Regions from separate parts of the Homo sapiens genome. Here region 1 is linked to region 2. The links come from fine-mapping of genetic effects on gene expression. A gene starts in region 2. The other region holds a variant in brackets. All regions are shown on one strand. Distances are from middle to middle. Region 1 has its middle 27 kb from the start of NNAT. Region 2 holds the start of BLCAP (BLCAP apoptosis inducing factor).

Region 1 (8,331 bases), 33 kb after region 2:
TTTTCAATGAGTCATACCACATTATAGCGATTTTACTATAAGCTGCAGGTTTTTTTCACTCAGTGTTACATTTTTACAATATACTCCTATTGCTACACATAGCTTGCTTTTGCCTTTAATAGCTATGTTGTATTCATTCCCATGAATGTACCACATTTTATCTTCTGTAAGCTCCATGGACATTTAATTGCTTCTTTTTCTTTCCTCCATCATGAGCAGTGCTGCAGAAACCACATTGCATGTTCCTTTGTGGTGGGATATCTCTGGGAGTGATTGGGAAATGGAATGTTGGGTCTTAATATGTCCACAGTTTTAGTTTTAGCAGATACTACCACTGTCCTCCATGATTTCTGTACCATTTAAGCTTCCAGCCAGAGGGTATGAGAGGGCTGTAATCCCCACACCCATAGGCGGTTGTTTTAAATATTTGCCAATCTCATGGGTGAAAAATTGAATCCTTTTTAAAATTTGTATTTTCCTGTTTGCTTGTGAGATTTTCATATGTATATTGAGCATTTGTATTTTCTCTTTTCTGAATTGCCTGTTATTTTTTCTCATTTTAAGCATTAGGTTGTCTTTATCCCACTGGCTTGTGGAGTTTTGTAATATAATCTGGATATTGATCTTTTGTAGATATGTGACAAATATTTTCTTCCAGCTTGTCATTGCCTTTAACTCTTTGTAGAATCTTTTGTTAGAAGTTATTAGTTTTGACATAATCCAATTTATCAATCTTTTCCTTTGATCCTTTTTTATACAGATACCATGTTTAGTCCTTCCCTACTCCTAAGATTTAAATATATTATTTCTTCTTTTCTAATAATTTTATAATTTTGTTTTTATTTGGTTCTTTATGCATCTGGAATATATTTTGATTATCATATTGATATATGATCTAACCTTTCTCCAAACGGGCAGCCAATTATTGCAGTATGAGGGGTTGACTAGTTCTTCCTTTCCCCTCTGACCTGAAGTAAAACTCCCTGATATTCTGAGTCAGGTGTGTCTGAAGCCCCTGTTTTTCCCAACAATCCATTTATTCCTTTCAGTACAAGACTGTTTTCTTTGCTGTCCCACCTTTTGGTATCTGTGAAGTCAAATGCCATGTTTCGTTGTGCTTCCTTCTCAGCTCTCTTAGCTAACTAGTACCGCACACTAACTCCTCCACATGAATTGTAAAGCCAGCTTGTCAAGTTGGAGAAATTGACATCAATACAATACCGAGCCTTTGAATTCATGAATACAGTAGAGCTCTACGTTTATTCTTATTATCTTGTATGTCCTTCACTCATGCACTGTTGTTCTCCCCATAAAGAACTTGCCCATTTCCTAATGGGTTTATTCCTATACTTTTTATTATTGTTGTGAATTAGTTTTCTCCAGCCCCCTTTTTTGTTTTGCTTTTGCTTGCTACATTTCTTTTTCATCTGCTTACTAATCACTCTACTTCATTCACAGGCACACACAAAGTAAATATTCCTCCTCCCTGGGCACAAACATGCAAGCACATCCAAACACACGGAGCCCACGTTATTGGCTGAAAATAAATAGTAATTTTTTAAAAAATTGAAGTCGAATGACACAAGCAAAACATGAATACGTTCCCCTTTTTTAAAAAAGAGAACATTGCAGATGAAGCTGGAGTCCCTTTTGGCCACCCACTGCCACCCTATTCCCTTCCTCCTCTCCAGAGGTAACCACAGTAATGGGCTCAATGTGGACTTTTCTAGACGTTTCTAAAAACTTACATATATAGATACCCAGAGGAAATATATGGTATACTTAAATAATGAAAATGTTATCTTTCTAGTTTTCATTAATATTCAACTTTTGTATTGACCTGAATTTTATTATGGTTGCAGAATAGAATGTCAACATTATCATCTGTCACAATGTGAAAGTAAAGATATAAAAGTTGGGAGGTAGCAGTGAAGGGAAGAGGGTAGGAAGGTTGACAGGGACAATAGTGGGGAGGCAAGAGCTTCTGTGGACATGTGGTAGAATAAGGAATGAAGGGGCAAGTAGGTTTCTTAAAAAGATAACCAACAGAGGTACTTAAAGACTGTGTTAGGAGAGGTAGGGATAGAGGGGAGTAGTTTCCAAGTGACCCAATGCCTAATCCACTGGGACATCAGTGGATCTTATGAACTAGAAATGGGGTGTAGCAGATGCTGTCTAGAGGGCTCCCATGACCCAGTTTTGACTTGGGACTTGTAAGGGGATATCTTCAGGCAGTTTCAGGGAAACACTTTCCTCCCTAATTAAAGAGATGCATGTGGGGCCAGGCACAGTGGCTGTCGCCTTGTAGTCCCAGCACTTTGGGAGGTTGAGGCGGGCAGACTGCTTGAGCCTAGGAGTTCGAGACTAGCCTGGGCAACATTGTGAAGCCCCATCTCTACAAAAAATACAAAAGTTAACCAGGCGTGGTGGCATGCACCTGTGGTCCCAGCTGCTCAAGAGGCTGAGGTGAGGAGATTGCTTTAGCTTGGGAGGTTGAGGCTTCAGTGAGCTACTACCATGCCATTCTACTCCAGCCTGGGTGGCAGAGTGAGACCGTGTCTCGAAAAAAGAAAAGAAAAAGAGGGATGCACTTGGAGAAGTTTCTTGGCTGCCCCCTTTCTTTCTGCCTAGGTGCTGTTGAGTGAAAACATAGTGCTTGGAGCCCTGACAGCTATCTATCTTGTGACCAGGAGGGGAAGGCCAGGAGACTCATGGTTCTCTGTTCACTCAGATCTCAGATACCTGGAACCACTGACTTTTGAACTTTTCATTACTTGAAATAAATGTTCTTGTTGCTTAGCCACTTTTAGGTGATATATTACGTTCTGGTGAAAGCATTCTTCCTAATACAAGCTGAGAGCTTACAGCTAGGAGACAACCTCCAGGAGCAGAGATCACACACTCTCGGGTAAGAGTTTGGGGTTGGGAGAGGGTCCATCCCGAACTTGCTGCTCTTCATCAAAAGCCCTTCTATTCTCTTGGATTAAAAAAAAAAATTCTGATAAGCCAGGCACATCATGCACCTGTATTCCCACCTACCTGGGAGGCTGAGGCAGGAGGATCACTTGAGCCCAGGAGCTCAAGGCTGCAGTGCGCTGTGATTGTGCCTGTGAATAGCCACTGCATTCCAGCCTGGTCAGCAGAACCAGGCACTGTCCCTAAAAACAAACAATTCTGATAACAAGTGTGTCAAGATGTGAACAGTGGTTGCCTCTGGGTACATTTGGATACTTTGCAGTTTTCTAAGATGTTGTCAAATGTTCTTAGGAGCTGACACATAAGAGAAGCTAAGTTTTGACTCCAGAAAAGGAAAGGCCCACAGCTGGTGAGACTGCCCAGGTGAAATCCTAGATGGATTCAAGGGGCGTTAGAGCTGGGGATGAGGAGCAAGCTGTGGGTGGATCTCACCTCACCTGATCCTGGAGGGCCAGCAACCTTCCTGGGTTCTTAAGGGAACTGCAGGGAGTCCAGCCGATTTGAGACACACAGGGTTGGGGGCATGGGTGTGGCAGGAGGGAGATCAGTGACAGATCAGGCTGGCTGCACCTGCAGTGCTGCTGTGTCATGACAAGAAGTGAGCTTCTATCCAAGGGTAATGAGGAACCAGTGGCCGTTTTTTCTTTTGTTTTGCTTTTTAATGGACGGAGTCTCACTCTGTTGCCCAGGCTGGAGTGCAGTGGCATGATCTCGGCTCACTGCAATGTCTGCCTCCCAGGTCAGCGATTCTCCTGCCTCAGCCTCCCGAGTAGATGGGATTACAGGCGTGTGCCACCACGCCCAGTTAATTTTTATATTTTTAGTACAGACAGGATTTCACCATGTTGGCCAGGATGGTCTCGAACCCCTGACCTCAGGTGATCTGCCCATCTTGGCCTCTCAAAGTGCTGGGATCACAGGCGTGAGCCACCATGCCTGGCCGTGGCTGTTCTTAAGCAGGGAGACAGGTGTGATCACTTTCATTTAGTTAAGTTTCTTTGCCAGTGGAAGAAGCTCAACTGAAACCAGCTCAGGCACAGAAGGAACTTAATTGGCTTCTATACGCAAACCACAGGCCAAGCTAGGTTCAGTTGACCTTCCGGTCCCCCGGGGCCAGGGACTTAACTGGCAGCCTGCCCCTCTCCCATCTCCATGTCTCCACGTCTCTTTGCCTGCCAGCTCCCTCTCTCAGGGATGCCTCTTCCACACACTGGCGTTCGTGACTGCCAATGTTTCACACCTCTCAGGTTCATGACCACAAAGAGATCGAGGTAGGAGCGCAGGAACTTGGTTAAGCATCAGGGCTACTTGCTTACTCATTGTTTTGTCTAATTTCTCTGTCTTCAGTGTCCTCACATAGGAAATGGGGATAACAACAGCACCAGCTTAATGCTGTGAGGGTCAAAGGAGATGATGTCCATCAAGTACTTACCTCGGGGATGGACACTAAGTGCTCCATACATGTTATGAGCTCTCTCTGTTCCCAAGTCCAGAAATCTAGACAAAAGCTTCCATTGGCCCAGTTGAGTTGGGGTTCACCTCTGGCAAATCAATGATGGCCATTAAAGTGGGTTGTGCAATAAATGAGAAGGTGAATTTCAAAGCAAATAGGTTGGGGTGCAGAATGATTTCCAAGAAGGATTGGC[G/A]CAGTTCTAGAAAAAGAACAGAGGTCATCCCTCTGGCTGCCAGCAGAAAAGGGTTTGATCAGGCCCCAACAGCCTGGAGGTAGGGAAGTACCTAAGAGGCACCACAGTTGTCCAGGTGAGAAATAACGCAGGTCTGAGCTAAGCAACAGTGCAGATGGAGAGAAGGCGGAGGCAAGAGAAGTTTTGGAGGTAGAAATAGGGGGCATGGTGCCAAGTGCACGGGAGAGATGAGACAGAATGAAAGGTTGAAGGTGGCCCCAGGTGCTAGCCCAGAAACCTACAAACAGAGCCTCTCCAAAATGTTGCTTCATTACTCAGGTTAACTCTTCCCAACACCACTGCCACTCCATTCTGCTCAGTAGCACAAACTTAGTTGAAGGTAAACCCAGCCACATCTGGACATTTCAAAAGACTATCTTAAGTAGATTCTTGGTCCACTTCCAGCTCCTCTGCTTCCCACTGCTCCTTCTCCTTGTGGGTAGTCAGTGTTCTGGGAGCTTCTATTCTGACCTGGCACCAGGGGCATACAAGTGATTCAGGTCTGCCAGCAACTATCCACTGCCATCCACTGAGCCACAGAATCCCTACTAAATCTTTGTCCTGACCATGAGGCACCTCCAAGTCCACCGGCTACACTCACCCTCTTCTCTACACCCTCACCATCACCACCGTGTTACAAAGACAAACAGGACCCTGGAGGACACCTCCCAGCCACCTTCTCCCACCAGGGGTCCTCAGCCTCTCTCCAGCCCATGCCAGGAGCTTGTGTTCTCTCAGGCAACACCTGAGGAGCCAGGCAACAGTCCCTTCTGCTCTGGGATACCTCAAATTTACTCTGGGAGCTCTAGTATCTACTATGAGCTACATCTCTTTGTGATTCCTTTATTCCCACTAGCTGGTCAAACTTTTATTTCCTTTTAGGCAGAAAAACAGCTTCTGTATTCTTCCCTGTTTACCATTCTGGCATCAATTTCAAGTGCTCAGTCCCTCAAGCTCTTTCCTCTTTACAAAAGCCCGGCTACTGCAACAAAGCATCCTGTCTGCTGTAAGTTTCAAGAGACTCTTTGAAACTACTGACCATCTTTCTCACTGCATTCATGCTGCAACAACCCAAATCCTGCAAAGCTCTGACTGAATCAGGAAAAAGTGACCTTGGTAGCTAGTCTCCAAAGATGGCCACCACCAATACTTGCCTTCCTGCGATATATATCATACTCCTTGTATCAGGAAGAGAAGTGTAATTCCCTCCCCATGAATCTAGGCTGGCCTTAGTGACTTTCTTGGCCAATAGAATATAGCAGAAGGCACATTCTGGGATTTGTAAGACTAGGTCGCAGGAAGCCTTATGGCCTCTGCCAGGCCTCTTGCAATGCTTGGCCTTGGAACACTCCCTCCTACAAGCCAGCTGCCATGCTATGAGAAGTGCAGGTCCTGTGGTAAATCCACATGTGGTCACTCCAGTCAACGGTCTCAGCAAGCCCCCAGCTGACTGTCAACTATGTGAATGAGCCTGCAGATGACTCCAGCCCCAGCTGCCATCTGACTGCAGCTGCATGAAACACTTAAGCAAGAACCACCTTGCTGAGCCCTATCAACCCCGGAACCATGAGGAATAATAAACTGTTTTTGTTTTTGTTGTTGTTGTTTTTGAGACAGGGTCTTTCTGTGTCATCTAGCCGGAGTACAGTGGCACAATCATGGCTCAATGCAGCGTCGGACCTCCTAAGCTCAGGCAATCCTCCCACTTCAGCCTCCCAAGTGGCTGCAACTATAGGCGTGCACCACTACACTTGGCTAATTTTTGTATTTTTGATAGAGATGGGGCTTCCCCATATTGTCCAGCCTGGTCTCAAACTCCTGAGCTCAAGTAATTTGCCTGCCTCGGCCTCCCGAAGTGCTGGGATTACAGGTGTGAGCCACTGCACCTGGCCAATAAATTGTGTTTGTAAGCCACTAATGTTTGGTGTAGTTTGTTGTGCACCAACATGGTGATGGGCAAGGAAGTGTGGTGGGGGGTGGGGAAGCACATCAAATAATATATAAAATATGATCCTACTACACAGCATTTAAATGGACCATCATAGTACAGTATGGTAAGTGCAGTAACGAAACATAAATATGCACAGAACTTTCCAGAAGAGGTGACCATTGGTCTTAGGGTGACTTATCTCCTTAGAGATGAGCAGGAATGAGCAAGCTAGAAGGAACTGGAAAGACCTTTTAAACAGAGGGAACAGCACAAGCATAGCCTTGGGAATGAGGAGCAGCAGGAGTGAGCTGGAGGGTATTTGGTGTTCCTGGACTATGACAAAAGAAGGAGGGGATGGGAAGAGCAAGATGAAGTGGACAGAGACCAGACCCTGCAGAGCCTTGGATGCCCCCATGTCAAGGAGTTTGGACACTGTCCTGCAGTCACTGGGCACTGTTGAAAGTTTTTACACTAGAGTGATGCATTCAGATTTGTTATTTGGGAAGACCACTGAGATGGTCAGTGTGAAGACTATATTTGGAAGAAGATAGTCTCTAGGCAGGGAGACCAATTTAGAAAATAAAGTCAGAAATGCATAAGGATTGTTGGCTGTTGGGGTGAGAGAGAGGGTAGAACCAAGGGTGATTCTCGTGTGTCTTTGGGTTCCTTGGCAGATGGTGAGGAGGTGCTTGAGATGGGGAACACAGCATGGTAGCCAGTTTGGGTGGGGGGAATGGGCTCAGTCTCAGAGAAGTAGAGATGAGGGGCCGGGGGTACAGCCAGGAGGAGGTTAGCAGACAGCTGGATGCCAGAGCTGGGACTCAGGAAGAAATCTGACTGGAGGGACCAACCTGGGGACAGAAGTTAATGGGACTCCAGGAATGAGCAAGACCATCAGGCAGAGAGTGTAGAGGGAAGATGGGAGGTGGAGAGTGTAGAGGGAAGATGGGAGAGAGCTCATAGCATCATGAGTCCCGGAGACATGTGAGGGGCTGACGGAGGTGTGGGTGGGTGACAAAGGAGAGAGGAAAAGGAAGGACCTGAGCAATGAGACAAATAACTAGGAGAGGAGGTTGCCATAGCAACCAAGATAGGGAAGAGTTTCAGGGAGAAAGTAATCACCACAGCTCGATGCCCCGAATCTCAGAAAAATAAGAAGCAGAAAGTCCTTTGAATCCAGCAATCGGGGGCTCCTATGAACCTTGGCAGGAACTGTTTTGGGGGCAAAGGGGTAAAAGCTAGCTTCCCCAGGGTCAACGGACTGAATAGGTGGAGGAGTGGCAGAACCTTCCTTAGAGAAGGTTGGATGACTAGGGAAGGAGTTGAATGGTAGCAAGAAAAATGTGAGCGATCAAGGGAGGGTTTTTGAAAACAGGAGAAACCCTAGAATTTCCTGGTCTTGAAAGAGGATGAGGATGAAAAGAAGAAAGACTTGTAAGTGAGCTGGGATCTATCCTCTGAGCCCGGCTGAAAGGAAACAAGTGGGTCTGATTGGAGATGTCTCAAGGGAAGAGAGCAAAGCATGGAAAAGACCTTTGTGGTGCACTTTCTGATCCTGAAAAAGTTAAAATTGATTATCAAATTCTGTAGGGTGGTTAAGAAAGGAAAAGGGTGCATTGAAATGAGTAGCTAGGAGGTCATTTGGTGACTGGTCCGGATAGCCTTTGCTGTCCCCTCCAAGAGCCATACTCTATCCTCCATCCTGTTCTGTGCCTGGGAGGCCAACCTTAATACTACCCA
Region 2 (8,331 bases):
GAGAAAGGGCTGGCCACTGAGGCCTTGTACATGCTAACACTCAGCCTGAAGTTACTGGAAGGTGGTATCCCGCAAAACAGACCTGATCCTTGTTTAGCAGCATGTCACATTCCATGGGATGGCAGGACCCCTTCCTTTCTTCCATTTTTCTTGTTTCTGTTTTTGAGATGGAATCTCGCTCTGTCGCCCAGGCTGGAGTGCAGTGGTGCCATCTTGGCTCACTGCAACCTCCACCTCCCAGGTTCAAGTGATTCTCCTGCCTCAGCCTCCCGGGTAGCTGGGATTACAGGCGCGTGCCACCACACCCAGCTAATTTTTATATTTTTAGTAGAGACAGGGTTTCACCATGTTGGCCAGGCTGGTCTCAAATTCCCGATCTCATGATCCACCTGCCTTGGCCTCCCAAAGTGTTGGGATTACAGGCGTGAGCCACCACACCCAGCCCCTTTCTTCTATTTTTCTTGAGGTATAACATACGTAAAGTATATAAAGCCCCCAGTCTTTTTTCTTTCTTTCTTTCTTTTTCCCCCGAAACAGGGTCTCATTCTGTCGCCCAGACTGGAGAGCAGTGGCACGATCTTGGCTCACTGCAGCCTCTGCCTCCCGAAGTCCCCTAGTCTTATGGTGAATTTTTACTTGATGAATTTTCACTTACATAATCACCAGCCAGAAGAAGATATAATCCTTCCAGCATCCCAGAAAAGCTCCTCTTGCTCCTTTCCCATCCCTACTCCTGACCTGACCCAGGTAACTACCATTTTGATTTCTAACCCTATAGATTAGTTGAGCTTTATATGAATGGATTCATATGGTATGTACTGTTTTGTATCTGGCTTCTTTTAGTCCACATACTATATGTGAGATTAACTGGTGCTATTACATGTAACAGTAGTTTGTTCTTTTATATGTAAAACACAGTATTCCATTGCATGAACATGCCACAATTTATCCATTCTCCAGTGATGGACATTGAACTATTTCCAATTTGAGCTATGAATAAGTCTGCTATGAACATTCTTGCACAAGTCTCCATGTAAACATAGGCACTCATTTCTCTCGGGTACATACCTAGGAGTGGAAATTCTAGATCACAGCATAGGTGTATGTTTAGATTTTGTAGATGCTGGTTTTCCAAAGTGGCTGTACCAATTTGCTCTGCCGTCAGCACTGCAAGAATTTGTTGCTCCACAGCCTCTCAACATTCAGCTCTCTTTTTCTTTTTTTGTTAGTTTTTATTTCATAATCATAAACTCTGCAATCCACCTGGGCATGGAAGGGAACAAGGAAAACATGAAACCCAAAGGGAACTGCAGCGAGAGCACAAAGATTCTAGGATACTGGGAGCAAATGGGGTGGAAGGGTGCTCTCCTGAGCTACAGAAGGAATGGTCTGGTGGTGAAGATAAAACACAAGTCAAACTTATTGGAGTTGTCTACAGTCAGCAATGGTGATCTTCTTGCTGGTCTTGCCATTCCTGGACCCAAAGCGCTCCATGGCCTCCACGATCTTCATGCCTTCTTTCTTCTTTCACCTTGCCAAAGACTACATGCTTGCCATCCAACCACTCAGTCTTGGCAGTGCAGATGACAAACTGGGAACCGTTTGTGTTGGGTCCAGCATTTACCACGGACAAGATGCCAGGACCTGTATGCTTTAGGATGAAGTTCTCATCATCAGATTTCTCCCCACAGATGGACTTGCCACCAGTGCCATTATGGCATGTGAAGTCACCACCCTGACATATAAATCCTGGAATAATTCTGTGAAAGCAGGAAACCTTTTAACCAAATCCTTTCTCTCCAGTGCTCACAGCACGAAAGTTTTCTGCTGTCTTTGGAATCTTGTCTGCAAACAGCTCGAAGGAGTAGGGGCCTAAGGGCGCGTCATCGACAGTGATGTCAAAGAACAAGGTGGGGCTGACCATGGCTGATAGTATGGGGATCCCAGCGGCATCTGCAAAGCCAGCTCTCTCTTTTTCTAAACAAGAGCTTCCACTACAAGACTCCTCTTGTCATTCAGTGTTGGATACTGGGTGTGGCTGCCATGGATGCATTGATCCTTTAGCCTGTAAGCAGCAGGATGGTGGGAGGCCACATTCAGGCCTGTTTTGAGTCTCAGCTGGAGGAGAAATGGACATCTCCTTGCTTTGGATGTGACCTCAGGAACTGGATAGCCATCTTGTGGCCATGAGCATAAACCAGCACAAGGACAGAAGATAAAATGAACCTCAGTCCTTGATGACACTGCCTAGCCACTGAGTGGCAGGCTACTTATTTTTTTAAGCCACTTGATGTAGTTGTGTGTTTAACTTGCAACATAAAAGATACAGTCCACCAACCTTCTTTATTCCCAAACCCCAACGGCTCCATTTCTGTTCTCAACAGCATCAGCCCCACTGAGCACTCCCTCCTTCCTGAAACCTCCTCTCTAGGACCCACACTCACTTGGTCCTCTTTCTACCCCACTGGCCACTGCTTCTTAGTCTCCTTTCCCGGATCCTCCTCTTCTTTTCTCTCCACCTTCTTTCACTTGCGTTCTCACCCAGCACCATGACCTTTGTATTGATGGCCCCCAAATATGTATCTCCTGCCCCAGCCTCCGTTCGCAGCTTCTGTGTCACATAAACCTGCCTACTCACCCTCTCTGCCTGCATGTTGCCCCGACATTTCAAACTTAACTTCTCAAAGCCGAACTTGATCTTCCCCCTCAGTCCGTTCCTCTTTCAGGCTTTATTGTCTTGGTCAAGGAATCTTTTACCCTTTCATTTACTCAAGGCTAAAACCTAGCGAGGAGTTATTGCCAATGCCTCCACATCCACCCAAGTCCAATCTTCCACCCTTCCCTTCACCTCCCCAAGCTACCACCCTGTCTGAGTCAGCATTGGCTTTTGTCTGGAAAGCTGCAACCACCTCCTAACTGGTCTGCCTACACCCACTCCTGAGTGCTTTCCAAGCCATGCGGCCTGGGTGGCCTTTCAGAAATCCTAATTTGCTATCCTCTTCCTGATGAAAATGGCTTCCCTGACTCTCAAGAGAAAAGCCAAATTCAGTATGTAGCTGACCTGTTTTCTTCTGTGCTCACCTCACCCCAACTCTGCCGCTTCCCAGCTCCAGATCTGGGACAAATGTTCTTTCTGCCTAGAACATTTCCCCTCTCACTCTTACCCTAATCGTCCTTTGTTTCTCAACCTAAATGCCATCTTCCCAAGGAGGTTCCACCCTTTCCCTACATTAGTACTCCATTAATTTCTCCTAACACTCTCTACTTCTTCTCACAGCACTTCCCATGATGTGTAATTATGTATTGATTAAAGTCACTAATATACAGTGATTATATGACTGTCTCCCCGCCTACCCGCCATTAGACTGGCAGTGCCTTGAGGTCAGGGACAGACCCAGGTTACCGACTCTACCTGCCCTTAGCACTGCGCTTGGGTACAGTAAGCGCCCAAGGAATATGCTTAATTAGCTAATAAATGACTACACGGACTCATTCAAGCCTCATAAAAGCCCTAAGGTGGGCATTTCAACAGAAGCCGGGTCGGGGTGGGCGAGGGGCTCGCTGGCCCAAGGTACGGGGCAAGTGGGGGAGCCGAGGCCTGACCCAAGGCAGTCCCAAGTTCTGAGCCCGGACCTTTCAGCTCCTGAGCCTTGGCTGCATGATGAAACGCTAGGGAGGGGGTGGACTTTGAGCCACGAGAAGGTTTTCCCGGAGTCCACGGACCATCCACGCGGGCAAGAACGAAGCGGGTTCACCAACATGAACACAACCCGGCCCGCCCAGCGCTCACGGAGTAAGGATCACAATCTGCTGCATATGCATGAGGGGACCCGGCCGCGCTTCGGGGCTGTCCACACTGCGCCTGATAAAAATTATTCGGGCTTGAAGATCTCGGGGCTCCCAGAGTTTTGTAAAAGTGCATACAAAGTCCTCAAAGGTGGTCTGTGGCTGATATTTACGGGAAATGGGGCGAGGATGAGCCCCCACTTCGGACCTTGTGATCAGGCGTTTGCGGTAGACAGCCCGATCCCAGGATGGGTCCTCGGCCGGCTCGACTAGAAGACTAAGGGGGCGTCTCCCCGGCTTCCTGCGGCGTCGGTGGCGAGCTGAGGTGGAGGCAGGCTGCGGCAGACGGCGACAGTGGCGGCGGCGCCATGGCAGGGCTTGCAGGTACCGTGGCGTCAACCTGCTTGGGGCGGGATGAGAGGCCCTCCATGCGGCCGCGCCGCCATATTGTCCCTTCTGGGTCACCTTAGGCGTCGCCGGGTCCCCGTCACTGGGGTTTTCCTTCCGCATACCCCGGGAAGGCAGGGCGCCCCTGTCCGGCTTCAGGTGATTGCCGTGATTGGACCTAGCCTGGGCCTTGGGGGGTCCCTTCCCAGCCCGGAGGTGGGTCATAGTACTCCTGGGTGCTGGCTCTGGCCTTGTCCAAGGTCAGCGCCCTTGCAGGATGAGACAGGCAGAGCCGGGGGCACGGGGCTGGGAGCGCGACCACCATCTCTGCAGCCCCGGGTTCCACGGCAGGGTGCCCAGCTTGTGAGAGGCCTGTCATTCTGTCCCCATCAGTTTAGTTGCGTTGCTTTAGTTGCTTTTTTGGGGGGGAGGTGGGGGGACGTGGGGGTGAGGGGAGAGAGGGTCTCCTGAGGCTCCGCTTCGGTGTCTGGGGTGATAGGCTGACGCTCTGCTAAGAGTCGCGGGCGCTTCTTACTCCCTCCAACTTTACATCAAGGGTGGACATCCCTTCCCTTTCCTTCTATAGACGTGGGGAGTGGCCCTCAAGGGCAGCTGAAGGAACGGAATGCCTGGCGCACTAATGGCCTGGAAAGGAAGCATGGGGGATGGGGGACAGTTGTTTTTTCCTTCCCCTTTCCAAATCTCCTTTAGTTTCCTTCCAGGCCTCCGTGTCCCATTTCATCGCCGAATGTTGGGAGACTGGGGTCTGTCCTCGGAAAGAAACAGCCTTTCTGTTTATAGGTTTGGATCGTCTATCCCTTTCAGGGAACTGGTGTGTTGGGGACGGCTTCTCTGCCCTGCCTGACATGGTCCAGTCATCCCGTCAGCCTTCTGGACGGCAACACCAAAGCTGGGACCAAAAAAAAGTTCCAGCTTAAGTGCTAATGCCAAGTGTTAGATCTTGTTTGCTTGTTTGTTTTAAATCAGAGACTAATTAATGTCAAGCAAATCTGTTAAAAGATTTGATCACGGGAAGCCTGGTCGGTTTCCAGTGACCAGGTCAATTCCATATCTGAAATTAGTCTTGTTAGAGTTGCTGCCAAAAACAGTTTAACCTTTAATCTGTAATATGTTGTTTCAAAGAGGAATCTGGGTTAGACTGTCTTTTTTTGTTGTTGTTCTCCTATCTTTGAAACACATGCATTCCATTTCAAGCCTGTCCCTGTGCGATATACCAAGAACCACGCGTTGCCTGCCTCTCTGACTTCCTGCTCTGGAAATGCTCAGGAATCTGGATCCTGCTGGGGCATGCATGGGCCCTGTGGGAGGGCAAGTCGGGGAGGGGAGGATAAACAGGATCACTCCCAGGGAAGATGGTGACAACGTGTCTCTGGGGCATATAGAGGAAGTCAGAGGTTACCGGGGGGAAAAGAGATTGTTGTTTGACTAGTGTTTTGTGTATGTGCATGAGTGCACACGTTTAAATCTCTGAGGGGGGGTGGGGGCGGTGGGGGGGGGAAGTTAACTGCAAATTCAGAATCTCCCTTTGGGGTGTTGGCTCCTGAGGAGATACACATTTCAAAATAGATATCTAGTAAATGGCTCACAGCAAACCTGCTCCCCGATCCAACAGTAATCCGTTGCCCAAGCTCAAGGAACTTGCCCCTGCCCTTCCCTGACAGCAGACATCCCTTCCTTCAGTGACAATTCAAATATTCCACAGATAAAGGTAACAGTGTCACATAGCACCCTGCACCCCTAAAAGTCATGGTACCTAAACACCTCTGGACTTAACTTCAGTTCGTTAGGCTAAGAAACTAACATCCTGGAGTATTAGTCTCAAGGGTCTCTCACCTGTTGCTGGAGTCCCACAGAGCTATTCCCAATTCCTTCCCAACCGATCTGCTCTGTCCTTGGCCTTGTGGGGGCAAAGTCTTCTGGGAGCAATGATGGTTTAGGCAAAGGGGACGTTCAGCACTGTGACTAAGGGCTGTGCAGTAAAACACTAGTCATTTTCAATTCTTCGCATTGCTCTCTATCAGAATAAAATGTTTAATGGTATAGTTTGTGGAAAAAATTTTATAAACAAGGTGTGTTTGGACCATCTAGGCATTGCATGGCATTGCACTGGATGGAAAGTGAATGCACTGTCTTCTCTGGTGGGTTAAGTTTGCTGCCAGAACATGAAGTTTTGTGGGTGGAGGATGCAAATGGGGAGTGGACATTGCACATTGAAGCCCACACGTGCAGGTGCAGGCCACCAGGGCAGCCCTTGCCTGGAAATCTGTCATCTCACCTTGCCACACTCACAGCCCTGCTGATGGACGGATGGAGGAAAAGGGCTTTGCCAAGATGATATGGAAAGCTCTGGGGCTACCAGGAGCCTCTTGTCCTCTAAGTGGGGGCACAAGAGGTGCTGTGTCCAGAGCAGCCAGCTCTTACCATGCTGCTTTGGCCTACCTCCCTGAAATCTGCTACCTTGTCACTTGGGCTGAGGTTAGAGCATCAAGAAGGGCAGTGGGGCTATGGGCATACCCCTCAAAAGCTCCGAAGGGAGGGTCAGCCTTCATGGAGAACACATGTTGGTATGTTCATGATTCTGTGGGTTTAGTGTGGAAAACCACAGAAACTCCCAGTTTTGAGGCCTGCCAAGATATGGGGTTCAGAAGGGAGGAGGTGTGGGCATTGCCTGCTGATGAGTCACACTGGGGCGAGAGGAGACCTGCCTCACCTTCAGGCTATGGTAGCAGCTATAGCCACCCAGCCTAAGAAAGATGAAGTCTCAGATTGCACATCCTCTTCAAGTCCTGATGAGTCCTGATTGCCACTGCTATGGCAGTTTCTAGCGTGTTAGGGTTCACTGGCATCTCAAAGGCCCTCTTCGAGAGGGAAACTGGAGATGAAGGGTACAAGGTGACATGTCCAGGTTCCCTAGGCTGATTGATGGCAAAGTCAAGACCAGAACCGGGATCTGCACCTCCCCACCCCTATAATTCTCTGATACCGAATGAAGTTTTAGATGCCTTTAGAGGTGCTGGTGATTGGGCTAAGAAACTTAAGGGCTTGCTTAGGGGAGGGAAACATGATCAGGCTTAAGGGGGCAAGGTACTTTGTGCTTCAGAAGTATTTGTGACAGCTGTGACTAAGGGATTCGAAGAAGTGGCAGGAAGAGAGATTTATGGCCCTCCAACTCCCTCCCTTGGTGTTGACCCAGCAACAGGTGTGTAGTGACAGGGACACATAAAGCCAGAGACAAGGCTGAACAGGCGGCAGGGCCATTTGGTGAGACAGTCAGCTGACCCCGTGTAGAAAGAGCCCTGACTCACTGGGGAGTGGGAGAGGAAGACAAGTCCGAGGCCGAGCACTGCCCACCCTGACGTGATGGCAGGGGAGAGCCCAGGGCCACGGACCTGGTAAGCATTCCTAAGAATACGGAGGCTGGTGCTGGGAAAAGCAGAAACCCAGTATTGGGGAGAGAGGTTTCTGGGGTGAGGTGGGGCCAGGAGACCCTGCAGAGTAGCAAGGCCAGGCAGATTGTCTTTGTAGTGGTCCTGGTGGATGTGGGGCCTGCAGCATTAAGCTGGGTGAAGAAGGCGCCACGCTGCACCTCTTATCCCATACTCATTGTCTAAGCCACTGTCCACCCTGCCCACTACTCATTTCTTTGGGGCTCCTGGATGGAGACCTGAAGTAAGGCTTTGTGTTCTGAAATCACCCCCTTGGTCCCTAGTACCTCTTTGGAGGGCTACTCCCACCTTTTTCCCCTCCTCTCATCTTTCCCAAAGTGATACTTGCTTTGGCCCCTTATCCTAAGACCACAAGTAAAGCACCTATCCCTTTGGGGAGGGGGAAGTGGTCCCTTATTCCAGGACCACAAGTGAAGATGTCAGCCTTTCTCTTTGGGGAGAGGGGGAGATGGTCCTTTATCACAGGACAGCATTGAGATGGGGTTGGGTGTGTGAGGGGCCCAGCTTATTGCAATTTTGATGGCCCTCCTTTTCCTCCCTCCCCCAAGCAGTGTGCCTGTTCCACAGTGGGCACATCAGCTGAGTCTTAGAAGTGTATGTTGATGCCGCTAAAGAAATCACAAGAGACAAAGTTTTGGTGCGCCTCTACTGCACCGCAGGGTCCTGGGACACTGTGCGAGACAGGGGAGGT

The links.
Region 1: its variant is fine-mapped to the expression of BLCAP in whole blood (INTERVAL, PIP above 0.99).

Annotation. Positions count from the first base shown.
Region 1 is chr20:37,490,162-37,498,492 of GRCh38, reverse strand. No RefSeq gene overlaps it. Among named protein-coding and RNA genes, the nearest start is that of NNAT, 27 kb to the left of the region's middle. The variant G/A (reference allele first, on the strand shown) is at 4,623.
Region 2 is chr20:37,523,632-37,531,962 of GRCh38, reverse strand. BLCAP (BLCAP apoptosis inducing factor) reads left to right here and starts at 4,087. Exons shown (of 2, transcript NM_006698.4): 1 at 4,087-4,170. It overlaps NNAT (neuronatin), which reads right to left. Exons shown (of 3, transcript NM_005386.4): 3 at 8,273-8,331. It also overlaps the pseudogene PPIAP3. RefSeq lists enhancers at 3,795-4,104, 4,195-4,244, 3,566-4,283, 5,001-5,719.